Linked DNA regions of Homo sapiens. The protein of the gene in region 1 interacts with the protein of each later gene in a pairwise test. Each region holds a gene or a part of one and is shown on either strand. Other genes may lie near its edges.

The links.
Region 2: the proteins of TNXB (region 1) and POU6F2 interact in binary tests that used the Homo sapiens proteins (3 or more experiments, as listed by UniProt).
Region 3: the proteins of TNXB (region 1) and CEACAM6 interact in binary tests that used the Homo sapiens proteins (3 or more experiments, as listed by UniProt).

The regions. Positions count from the first base shown.
Region 1 is NC_000006.12:32,040,653-32,043,492, forward strand, and holds the end of TNXB (tenascin-X isoform 3 precursor), read right to left. Parts: coding exon 2,785-2,840; intron 2,667-2,784; coding exon 2,523-2,666; intron 2,430-2,522; coding exon 2,299-2,429; intron 2,180-2,298; coding exon 2,047-2,179; intron 1,955-2,046; coding exon 1,803-1,954; intron 1,711-1,802; coding exon 1,614-1,710; intron 1,522-1,613; coding exon 1,360-1,521; intron 1,283-1,359; coding exon 1,119-1,282; intron 993-1,118; exon of another isoform or gene 799-992; coding exon 697-798; 3' UTR 501-696; downstream 1-500. Other genes in the region: CYP21A2 (steroid 21-hydroxylase), read left to right, coding at 16-119, 217-482. UniProt on the Homo sapiens protein: Appears to mediate interactions between cells and the extracellular matrix. Substrate-adhesion molecule that appears to inhibit cell migration. Accelerates collagen fibril formation. May play a role in supporting the growth of epithelial tumors.
Region 2 is NC_000007.14:39,337,853-39,341,606, forward strand, and holds part of POU6F2 (POU domain, class 6, transcription factor 2), read left to right. Parts: exon of another isoform or gene 1-1,268; intron 1,269-1,789; coding exon 1,790-2,163; intron 2,164-3,754. UniProt on the Homo sapiens protein: Probable transcription factor likely to be involved in early steps in the differentiation of amacrine and ganglion cells. Recognizes and binds to the DNA sequence 5'-ATGCAAAT-3'. Isoform 1 does not bind DNA.
Region 3 is NC_000019.10:41,753,956-41,757,709, reverse strand, and holds the start of CEACAM6 (cell adhesion molecule CEACAM6 preproprotein), read right to left. Parts: upstream 2,181-3,754; 5' UTR 2,072-2,180; coding exon 2,008-2,071; intron 1,111-2,007; coding exon 751-1,110; exon of another isoform or gene 1-750. UniProt on the Homo sapiens protein: Cell surface glycoprotein that plays a role in cell adhesion and tumor progression. Intercellular adhesion occurs in a calcium- and fibronectin-independent manner.

The DNA.
Region 1 (2,840 bases):
TCCAGCCCCCTTCAGCATCTCCGGCTACGACATCCCTGAGGGCACAGTCATCATTCCGAACCTCCAAGGCGCCCACCTGGATGAGACGGTCTGGGAGAGGCCACATGAGTTCTGGCCTGGTATGTGGGGGGCCGGGGGCCTGCCGTGAAAATGTGGTGGAGGCTGGTCCCCGCTGCCGCTGAACGCCTCCCCACCCACCTGTCCACCCGCCCGCAGATCGCTTCCTGGAGCCAGGCAAGAACTCCAGAGCTCTGGCCTTCGGCTGCGGTGCCCGCGTGTGCCTGGGCGAGCCGCTGGCGCGCCTGGAGCTCTTCGTGGTGCTGACCCGACTGCTGCAGGCCTTCACGCTGCTGCCCTCCGGGGACGCCCTGCCCTCCCTGCAGCCCCTGCCCCACTGCAGTGTCATCCTCAAGATGCAGCCTTTCCAAGTGCGGCTGCAGCCCCGGGGGATGGGGGCCCACAGCCCGGGCCAGAGCCAGTGATGGGGCAGGACCGATGCCAGCCGGGTACCTCAGTTTCTCCTTTATTGCTCCCGTACGAACCCCTCCCCTCCCCCCTGTAAACACAGTGCTGCGAGATCGCTGGCAGAGAAGGCTTCCTCCAGCGGCTGGGTGGTGAAGGACCCTGGCTCTTCTCTCGGGGCGACCCCTCAGTGCTCGGCAGTCATACTGGGGTGCGAGAGAGGTGGGCAGCAGCTCAGCCTCCCCCCGCTGGGGAGCGAAAGTTTCTTGGTCTCAGCTTCATTTCCGTGAAGGGCACCGAGAACTCGAAGCCCTTCCAGTGGTACCAGCTCACTCCCTGGGAAAGGGGTTGTCAAGAGAGAGTCAAAGCCGGATGTCCCATCTGCTCTTCCCGTTCCCCTTAAGGAGGTAGCTCCCAGCACTCAACCAACCTCCCCGCAGAGCTCCCTTCCTGACCCTCCGCTGCAGAGGATTGAGGCTTAATTCTGAGCTGGCCCTTTCCAGCCAATAAATCAACTCCAGCTCCCTCTGCGAGGCTGGCATGATTGTTCCATTTCACCCAGCCACTCAGTCCCTTGCCTGTTACACTGTGGGGCTGAAACCTAGGCAGGCCGAGCCCCAGCCACCCCAGCTCTGAGCCGCCTCCCCACCCCTCACCTGATGGTCCACTGTGCTCCCGTAGAGCCCGTTGAGGTTGGCGTAGTGGCAGTTCCTGTACCACCAGGCCCCTCGGTAGGAGACAGCGCAGGAGATGAGCAAGCTGTTGGGGTCCCGATCACGGGCAGAGAAGACACTGCCGCTGTGGTAGCTCATGGAGTCCCCTGGGCAGGGTGGAGGAAGGAGCCATGAGGGCCTCCCCTCCCAGCCTCACCCTCCCAGCCTCACAGCCTCTGCTTACCTGCGGTGCCGTGGTAGCCCTCCAAGTGGAGGCGGTAGTACTCCGCAGCCGAGTCTACGTGGAAGGAGTCGTACTGGGCGAACACAGCCTCGTCCCCAGCCCGCAGGTCCACGCGCATGGAGTAGTCACCTGCCTGTGTCAGGCTGTGCAGGGCCTCATTGCCTGGGGGTGGGATACGTGCCCTCATCAGGGTCCTGGTGTCCACAGGGCCCCCATCCCCATCCGTAGTTCCCCAGTCCCTGTGAGGCACTGACCCAGCCAGAACTCTCCAGAGATGTTCCCAAAACCATGGGCATAGTCCTCCCAGTCCCTCCAGAAGTCTGTCTGTCCATCCATGCGGCGCTGGAACACCTGGGAAGCAAGTGGGGGCACCATCAGCCTCTGGCTCCCGGGGCAACAGACCCTGCCCTGCACAGACCCCTGGGCTTCCCAATGCCACCCACCAGCCAGCCGCCCCCATCAGTCTCCATGTCGCAAAACACGTTCAGGGGCCGCTCGCGGTTGCCGTTGAGGAAGATGGTGCTGGTCCTGGAGGCACCGGCTCCGTTCTGCATCTCCTCCCCGCAGTCCCTGGGGAAGGGGATCCGCAGCCCACCTGGGAGAGGAGAGCAGGGGCCAGTCCTTTTCCAAGCCTTAGGCCCTGGCTGCCCACCCAGCCCCCGGCCCCGGGCCCGTGCGTCCAGGTACCCGTGGTGAAAGAGGTGGACACGGGCGGCAGGAGGCTCTGGCCCCACATGGCCTGGAGCCGTGCATTGTAGGAGGTGGAGGGAAAGAGGCCAAGGAGCTGGTGAGATGTGATCCCTCCTGGGAGCAGGATCTCCTGTGGGACAGACAAGGGGGGGTCAGGGGAGAGGGAGGTGGAGACCCTCCGGGAGGGCCAGAGGCAGCACCTCCTGGAATCACCCAGGGAGGGGAGTTGGGTCAGTGGGGCCGGGGCACCTGGTTCTGTCCACCAGGGGTGTGGAAGCTGAGCAGGTAGCCTGCGGGCCGGACTGGGGGCTCAGTCCAAGTGAGCAGGGCGGTGCGGGGGGTCACTTCCTTGGCCTCCAAGTCCCGAGGGGCCTCTAGCCCTAGGAGGGAAAGCAGGAAGAGGAGATGGGGATGAGGCCCAACCTGGCTCCCTCTACCTCCTCTCCCTGTCCCACACACCCCACAGACCCTACCTGTGGTGAAGGTGATGCTGGCTGGGGAAGTGAGGTTGGGGCCCCGCAGGCCACGCACTGTGGCGGTGTAGTTGGTGTGGAGGACAAGGTCATGCAGGGGGTAGTCCACCGCGCTGCCTGGGGTCTCCGCCTGCAGAGGCGGGGCTGGGAGTGTAGAGAGGGGCATCAAGGCCTGCCCCCTCCATCCTCGGCCAGAGTCCAGCCTCCCCCCTGCAATCCCCACCCTGAACAAGTCCCCTCCAGAGGCCTCAGGCCTGCTCACCCCCAGGGGCTGTGACCTGGACGTCATAGGTGTCCACAGGATTCTGGGGGGGCTTC
Region 2 (3,754 bases), on another chromosome or scaffold:
AAAACAAATACCCAAGCAATATGAACTTACGGATATGGAGGAAGGGAGACATATTTGGGACCAAGGCTCATTAGTAGGTTAGGGTCTGCTGTACCTACCCGTCTGCCAACATCTATCTGCCAATATTCCCAGACTTTCCTGTTTCTAAATGCTGATTTAGATAAATGCTTTTCTAACCAAAATGAAGCAGTATGGTATTTAAGTCAACCATGGAAATAAGCATTAACATATGTGCCCCCACCTGAAAGACATCAGGTTAGGTTCGATTTGAATCAGGCAGGAGGCCAGATGCAATCAAGTCCCTGAAGTCTGGAACTCCACCAGAAGAAGAGATCAGGCTCCCCTGCCCCAGGATCCTCCAGACTGCAGAAGATCTAGGGAGGTCAGAATAGAGCAGGGCTCCCACATCTTTGATAAAATGTGATTTTGTAAACTAGAAGAAAGGGGGAAATGGCAAAAGCAGGCCTTTCTCTAAAAGGTCTAATAAACGGGATGATGCCGGGGTACTTTCCAGGCCTCCCTCATGCCATCTCTATCTCTACGATTACATCACAAGCCCCAGAACACCCTGGCTCTACACGCAAGGCAGGCCACACACTGGACTGCTTGCATAGACCTAGAGCAGTTCAGTGGCTCAGTGAGGACTTGCTATCCCAACTGGACCAAGTTGGAAGCCCTACATGGTATGTGAGATCACAGAATTGGTATTTGATACCCCTGGAAATGGTTGCATCGTCATTTCACCAATACAGCTACACTTTCCTCTAAGGCCTGTGGGTTTGACATTGATCCTTATATGTTTATTTGTTCATGGGCTTGTTAGAAAGCTTTTAGATTGAGATTTAGGCAAAAAAGAAAGTGAACTTGGTTTTTAGCCGTAAATTTCTCTAGACCATTCTTAGGTCAAACTAACCAGCTTCCTTCTGCAGAAATTGTTCAGTGCTACATGGGCATGTGAGAACAAATTTTGCGTGCTCAGTGCTAAGACACTTTCTCCCACCAACTCTACCTTTCTCATAACAAGATCTTAAAAGATGATTTCATTCCCTCAGTCCTTAGGTGCTGTCCTGTCCTCAGGTGCTGATGTCTAATCACCACACTGTTTGGTTCAGTCACCTGCTATCATCCCTCCAGTTTAGGGGTTCTGTCTCTTTAATCAGCAGGCAAAAAATTCAGACTCAGGCTTTTGACCCTGCAAAATGGAGAAGCATGTACTGCTTTTGAATTTTTAAAAAAAAAAAAAAACAGTTAGAAATTTGACACTAAGACATCTAAGCAACTGGGTGGAGATCTGAAGTAGCAAGTGAAAATGATACCATTAATGATATTGATGATGGATGTAAAGGCAATTGCAAACAATTGGTTTTTTGTTCTTAACTCCAGTCAAACACTTACCAAAACAACTAAACTGGTTGGACTTCAACAATCTAAATGAAATCTTGAAGCATGAATGTATTTCCCATGCAGTATGGAAAGGAAGAGAGAGAGAAAGTAGTTAAAAAACAATCTCCATTCCTACCACACACCTTTGGCTTGCATTGTTCACCACCTTTTAAAGTAATGCCTGATGTGTTATATGCTGGTCCTCCAGAAATTCTAAACTTTCCCCAGAAGTGACCTTTGTTCTCCCAGTGCCTCACAACACTCTTAAATACCAAAGAGCTTCAGGGGGCAAGGACAAGAATTTTCTAAAGGAAACCCTTCTCCACTTGCACTGGACAGGCTGTCAAGACCCAGCAAGACACTTTGTCATGTTATCTCACTCCACATTCGCTTTCTCTCCTTGTAGCTACCTCATCCCTGAACTCCCAGCTCCAGCAGCTCCAGCTCCAGCTCCAGCAGCAGCAGCAGCAGCAGCAGCAGCAGCCTCCCCCGTCAACCAACCAGCACCCGCAACCAGCCCCACAGGCGCCCTCGCAGTCCCAGCAGCAGCCGCTGCAGCCCACCCCACCCCAGCAGCCACCACCCGCCTCTCAGCAGCCGCCAGCTCCTACATCTCAGCTGCAACAGGCGCCTCAGCCCCAGCAGCACCAACCCCACTCCCACTCCCAGAACCAGAACCAACCATCTCCAACCCAGCAGAGCTCCAGCCCCCCGCAGAAACCTAGTCAGTCTCCAGGACATGGCCTGCCTTCACCGCTCACGCCACCCAATCCTCTACAGGTATGCTCCCCGTGCTTCCCGTCTGCCCCTAGGAGCACCAAGGACCTTTCCATGGGGTGGTGCCATCCCCAAAGGCAGAGGGACCACACAAAACTTAGCATCCAGTTCTGCAGCATCTAATTCAAATTGATCTCTTAGACATAGGGAAGAAGAAGCAACTAGAAGGCAACTGGGGATGCATGTAAACGAAACAAATAGAAGCCCATTTCTGTTGCCCTCCAAAGGATAAATGTTATCTGTTTCCTTCTGTGAGAGGCCAGCACTATAAGTGCATTTGGAGCCTGTAATAATTCCATTTTATGATACTTTTTGAAGGCAGCAAAGATAGCATCCAATTAAAATTATTACTAGCACAGTTTTGTAGCCCCATGGAGAACTGCATCTACTGTCCATGAGGCATGGTGGTTATTTCTCTATATTATGAATACAACAGTGTCTCACCTTAAGTACTTTGTGCTCTTTTGTTTCTATTTTTCTAAAGACTCTCTGGGGTTAGGAGGGCAAAGAAATTTAGCCCCAGTCTTATGTCCCAGATTCCAACCATTACTCCACAGACTAACAAGTACTCTAAATTCATGCCAAGAGCCTCAACCAATATGCATCTTTATAAAGGAATAAAACTTCTATAGGTTTACTTTATTACTGTGAGGCTGAGAGCTTCATAAATAGATATTTCAGGCTAACCATGAGAGCTCATCTATAACCTACCTATTGAGAAGGAATGGATAGGTGCATTCATATATATATATATATATATATGACTTTAAACTTCAGAAAACCATTTTTAACTTAGGTGTCTTTAAAATAAATTAGCTTCAAAACATAATGACTGTGATGTCATCATATCAGATCCAGAAATTAATAACTCAGCCAAGCCATCCATTCTTTGACTTGCACAATGACATTTTTCCCTGTGAGATTTCAGACAATCTCGTGTATTTGTAGTACTGTGACAAAGTTAAACAGAGTGAGCAGCCTGTGGACCTGTTTCAAGTGCCATCTCATCCCCTTGCCATAGTGGTGGGTATAAACCTCAGTCAGTCCGGCTCTCCCCAGCCTGAGAATGACAGTAGCGATGGTATCCTTGGCTCCTAAATAGAAAAGTATACAAAATAAAGACAGGTTGGTACACGGACAGAAAGGCAGGTGGATTAGAGACTTGGTATTTTAGAACTTAGTTTGTTGTCCCATAGCTTTGTCTCTTCCAATTTGGATTCTCAGTGGTGTGGCCCAAAGCATTCCTAGAAATGAACACATTTGGGAGAGATGAGTCATTGTGTTTTTCTGGGCTCTTGGGCCAGGGCTACTTTCAATTTGAACATTTTCATGAGTGGAGTTTCAAGATGTATTTATACAATTCTTACGATGGTGAGACAACGTAACACCTTTGACCTAGGACTAAAATGAACATGGTCCAAAAACGTCTTCATTGTCCACTTGACACCTACTGAAAGAGCAGGTGTCATCAAATTTACAGAAGGCATGATTACAGCAACCTTAATGTTGGCAGCATTTGGGATTCAACTTTATTATTCCAAAAAATTAATTTAATGCTTTTTAAGAACACTTACATTAGATGTACCTATATACC
Region 3 (3,754 bases), on another chromosome or scaffold:
CTGATCCCTGGTGGACATGGAGCTGCCAGGAGCATCCTCTCTTCTCTGTTCCTCCCCTTGGGGACTCTGAACTTCCCAGGGAGTAACCTGTGTCCCCCAGGGCAGTGGGCTCATGCACTAGTAATTTTTTCCATCTGTCCTTTCCATGCTGAGCCTCAAGTGAAGGAGGAGGCCCTATCCTCAGCTAGATGAGGCTCTGGGTGCTCGGACCTGGCTGGTGACCAACTCCAGGAGTCATGGCCCTTGGATAGCTCACATCCTTGCTCCCAGCCAGCCCTGCCCAAGAGGCCACCACACAGCCCTGGCACAGACTCCCCAGGATCACCTGGAATCAGGAACCAGGGACAGGGCTTTGTACAGGGGCTCAGTTCAGGGAAGAGTTGAGCTTCTCTCTGAGGGGTCCCTAGGGGGACCCCTCAGGCCAGGCCCTGATCCAGTTCTCCAGGGTCTTTCTCAGGGTCAGGTCCATGGGGAGACCATGGGGTGCTTGTCTGACACTGACCTCGCCCTGCTGAGTCCCCCCATCAGACTGTCCTTCCTCTGCAGCGAGTGTCTGCAGGGTCTGGATCCAGGAAAGGAATTCTGATCTGTGGAAGTTTGTCTCCCCCGTGTGTGTCCTGCACTAAATGTCCAAACCCTGATACAGGATGTAATGCAGAGAGGGCCACAGGCACAACCCAGGCCTGACAATCCCGTATGTGGGAAGTAGAACTGACCCCCAACACCCAGAGGTCATGTGGAAATACTCACGGTATACATGGAACTGTCCGGTTGCTTCTTCATTCACAAGATCTGACTTTATGACTTGTAGGGTATAGAATCCTGTGTCATTCTGGGTGACGTTCTGGATCAGCAGGGATGCATTGGGGTATATTGTCTCTCGACCACTGTATGCGGGCCCTGGGGTAGCTTGTTGAGTTCCTATTACATATCCTACAATTAGACTGTTGCCATCCACTCTTTCGCCTTTGTACCAGCTGTAACCAATACGATTCTGGGGCAGGTTGTGGGCGAGTAGAAGAACCTCCTTCCCCTCTGCGACATTGAACGGCGTGGATTCAATAGTGAGCTTGGCAGTGGTGGGTGGGTTCCAGAAGGTTAGAAGTGAGGCTAGGAGAGAGGAGAGAGCATCGGTCAATATTGGGACCTATGCATTAGGGTGGAAAAACAGGGCCCTGGGTCCTGAGCAGGTCTCTTCACCCCTCCACGTTGGAGCGTGTGTGTGTGTGTGTGTGTGTGTGTGTGTGTGTGTGTGTCCTACTGAGTCAAAGTCAGCAGTGTGACACCCCCATTCCTTCAGCACCTTTGACCTTGGCATTTCCCTGTGTGGAATGCTCTTCCCCAGGGGTCTGCATGGCTCCCTCCCCACTGGCCTCAGGTCCTGCTCACATCAGGGCATTCTTGGGAGATCCCTTCCCTGACACCCCCTCTACAGACCCTGGGTCTTTTCTTTCTGACCTTTCCCTGCTCTGTTCCTTCCAGGGCTCTTGTCAACACCTGACCTCACATTCTATATCTCTTTGTGTGTGTGTTTTCCTCTTCATGACAGCATAAGCTCTGTGATGACTGAGACTTGTCTGATGCTTGTTGTATGCCATTGACTAAAATTGATTGCAAATGCTTGTGGATGAGTTAATGAGTGTATCTGGTGGTTATTTTTCAACTTCTGATTGGTGAGTAAGGGCAGCATTTAGTTTCCTTGTTATATTTTTATTTGGAGTGTCATCCTAATGCAGTTCTGATTTCTATCATTTTTCTTTTTTTTCAAATGGTAATGACAAATGATGATTAACTTGGAAAACATGATCAATTGATTTTCCTCCCTTTTTATCAATCCCAGTTTAGTGTGACTTTCCTGTTGTGACCCCTGTCCCTCTCTGGTGTTCTGTTTCCTCAGGCTTCAACAAAAGCCCTCTGTCTCCTCTCAGAGCCTTGTCCTCCCCAGGAGACCCTAGCCAGTCTCTGTGCTCCCTCCTCCCATCCACTCCGAGGGAGTCCTCCCCTCACCTGTGAGCAGGACCTCCTTCCAGGGGACATGCAATCTGCAGGGAGGGGCTGAGGGGGGTCCCATGGTCTCTGCTGTCTTCTCTGTCCACCTCTTTGTAGAGGAGCTTGAGCTCCAGGAATGCTCTGGTCAGGGCTGCTGTGACTGTTGGCCCTGCTGTCCTTCCTCCTTCTGTGCTGAGCCTCCTCTCAGGGATAGAAGCATTTCCCAGGGTCACGTGGGTCATGGGTGCGGTCTCTGTTCAGGAATCCTCTATCCCCTCCCCTCTCATTTCTGTCTCTTTTGTCCCTCCTCCTCTTCCCTTTCTGTTTATATTCAGTTCCCCAGAAGATGCTCTGAGAAGCAAGCTTGTTTGGACCCCTGTTCCATAACAGGACGACCCGCCCTCCCCAGCACGGACCTCTGCTGTGTCTGGGCCTTGGGTCTGTCAGCACCACACAGAGAGTCCCTGGGGTCCTCAAACCTGGTGTTATTTTCTCTGTGACAGAGAAACCCCTCTATGTGTGCAGGATGTTCCTAGTGTTCTCACACGTCTGGGAAGGTTGGATTTACCTCCAGCAAGGAGGTCACAGAGATGTTTGGGGTCCTAGGAGTGGACACATCCAGGGCTAAAGCCCGGGTCTAAGATTCTGAATTGTTCTTTCTGCAGTGTTATGTGACTCTAATTTCCTGGGAGTAACTGAGAATGAAGCTGCATGGTGCTGTAGTATTATGTCATCCAGACCCCAGACATTTCTAGACCAACTTTATGATTTTCTCTACAGCTTTACCACCTTTATTATTATTTACTTCATACTTTTTTTGTAATTAAATTTAGTTTACAAAACATCCTTGTCTTAGCAGGGCTTGGTGGCTCACACCTGTGATCTCAGCTACTCAAGAGGTTGAGGTGAGAGGATGGCTTGAGGCCAGGAACTGAAGACAAAATATTTTTGTCTTATGCAATATTGTCCATGAAATCAGAGATTTGATGTGTGCTTAATTTTTTTTCCTGTCATGCGTTAAAATAAACACAGTTAAACTTAAAAGTTTATTTATGTTTCACCTAAAATCAGTTTTGGGAAATGCTTATATAGTGGCATAAGCATGGAATTTATATCCAGATATAGACCTGGGCTCAGCTAATGGTTCTGTCACTTAACTATGTTGACTTGGACAAGTCACTTGGCTTCTATGATCCTTGATTCCCTGATTTGTAAAAGGAGGATGGTAAAATCCTCCTTGCAGAGTTGTTGGGAATATGTGGGAGCCCAGTGTCCAGGCGGGTGTTGAGTACGTGATGGTTATCATTGTGTTTATTGCTGTGGAATTCTGGTTATTTTCCAAAGAGAGTGTCTATGCTGGAATATTGGGCTTGTGGCTTTCTGCTAACATGCATGTGTGAAGAAGTTACTTTTGCTTGTTAGGACTTGTGCATCTGTCATTATTTTTGTTTTCCAGTTCTACTACCTATTTTCTCTGTGATGTTGGTCAAGTTGTCTAACTTTTCTGTGCCTCATTTACCTAATTTGTGAAATGTGGGTAACAGTACACTAGTGTGGGTGTGTTATTTCCCAGCTCCGACCACTAGAGGGCATAGAAGCACCGGCACCTACTAGCAATGGGCATATGGGTGCCCATGGTCTGTAAACATCATTTTCCCATGAAAGGAACCAGGGGTCCCTGGAGAAATAGCTGATCCAGGGCTGGGCAAGAAAGCACAAGAGGAGCCTTGTGGGGCCAGAAGTAAACATTCTGTGGGGCCAGAAG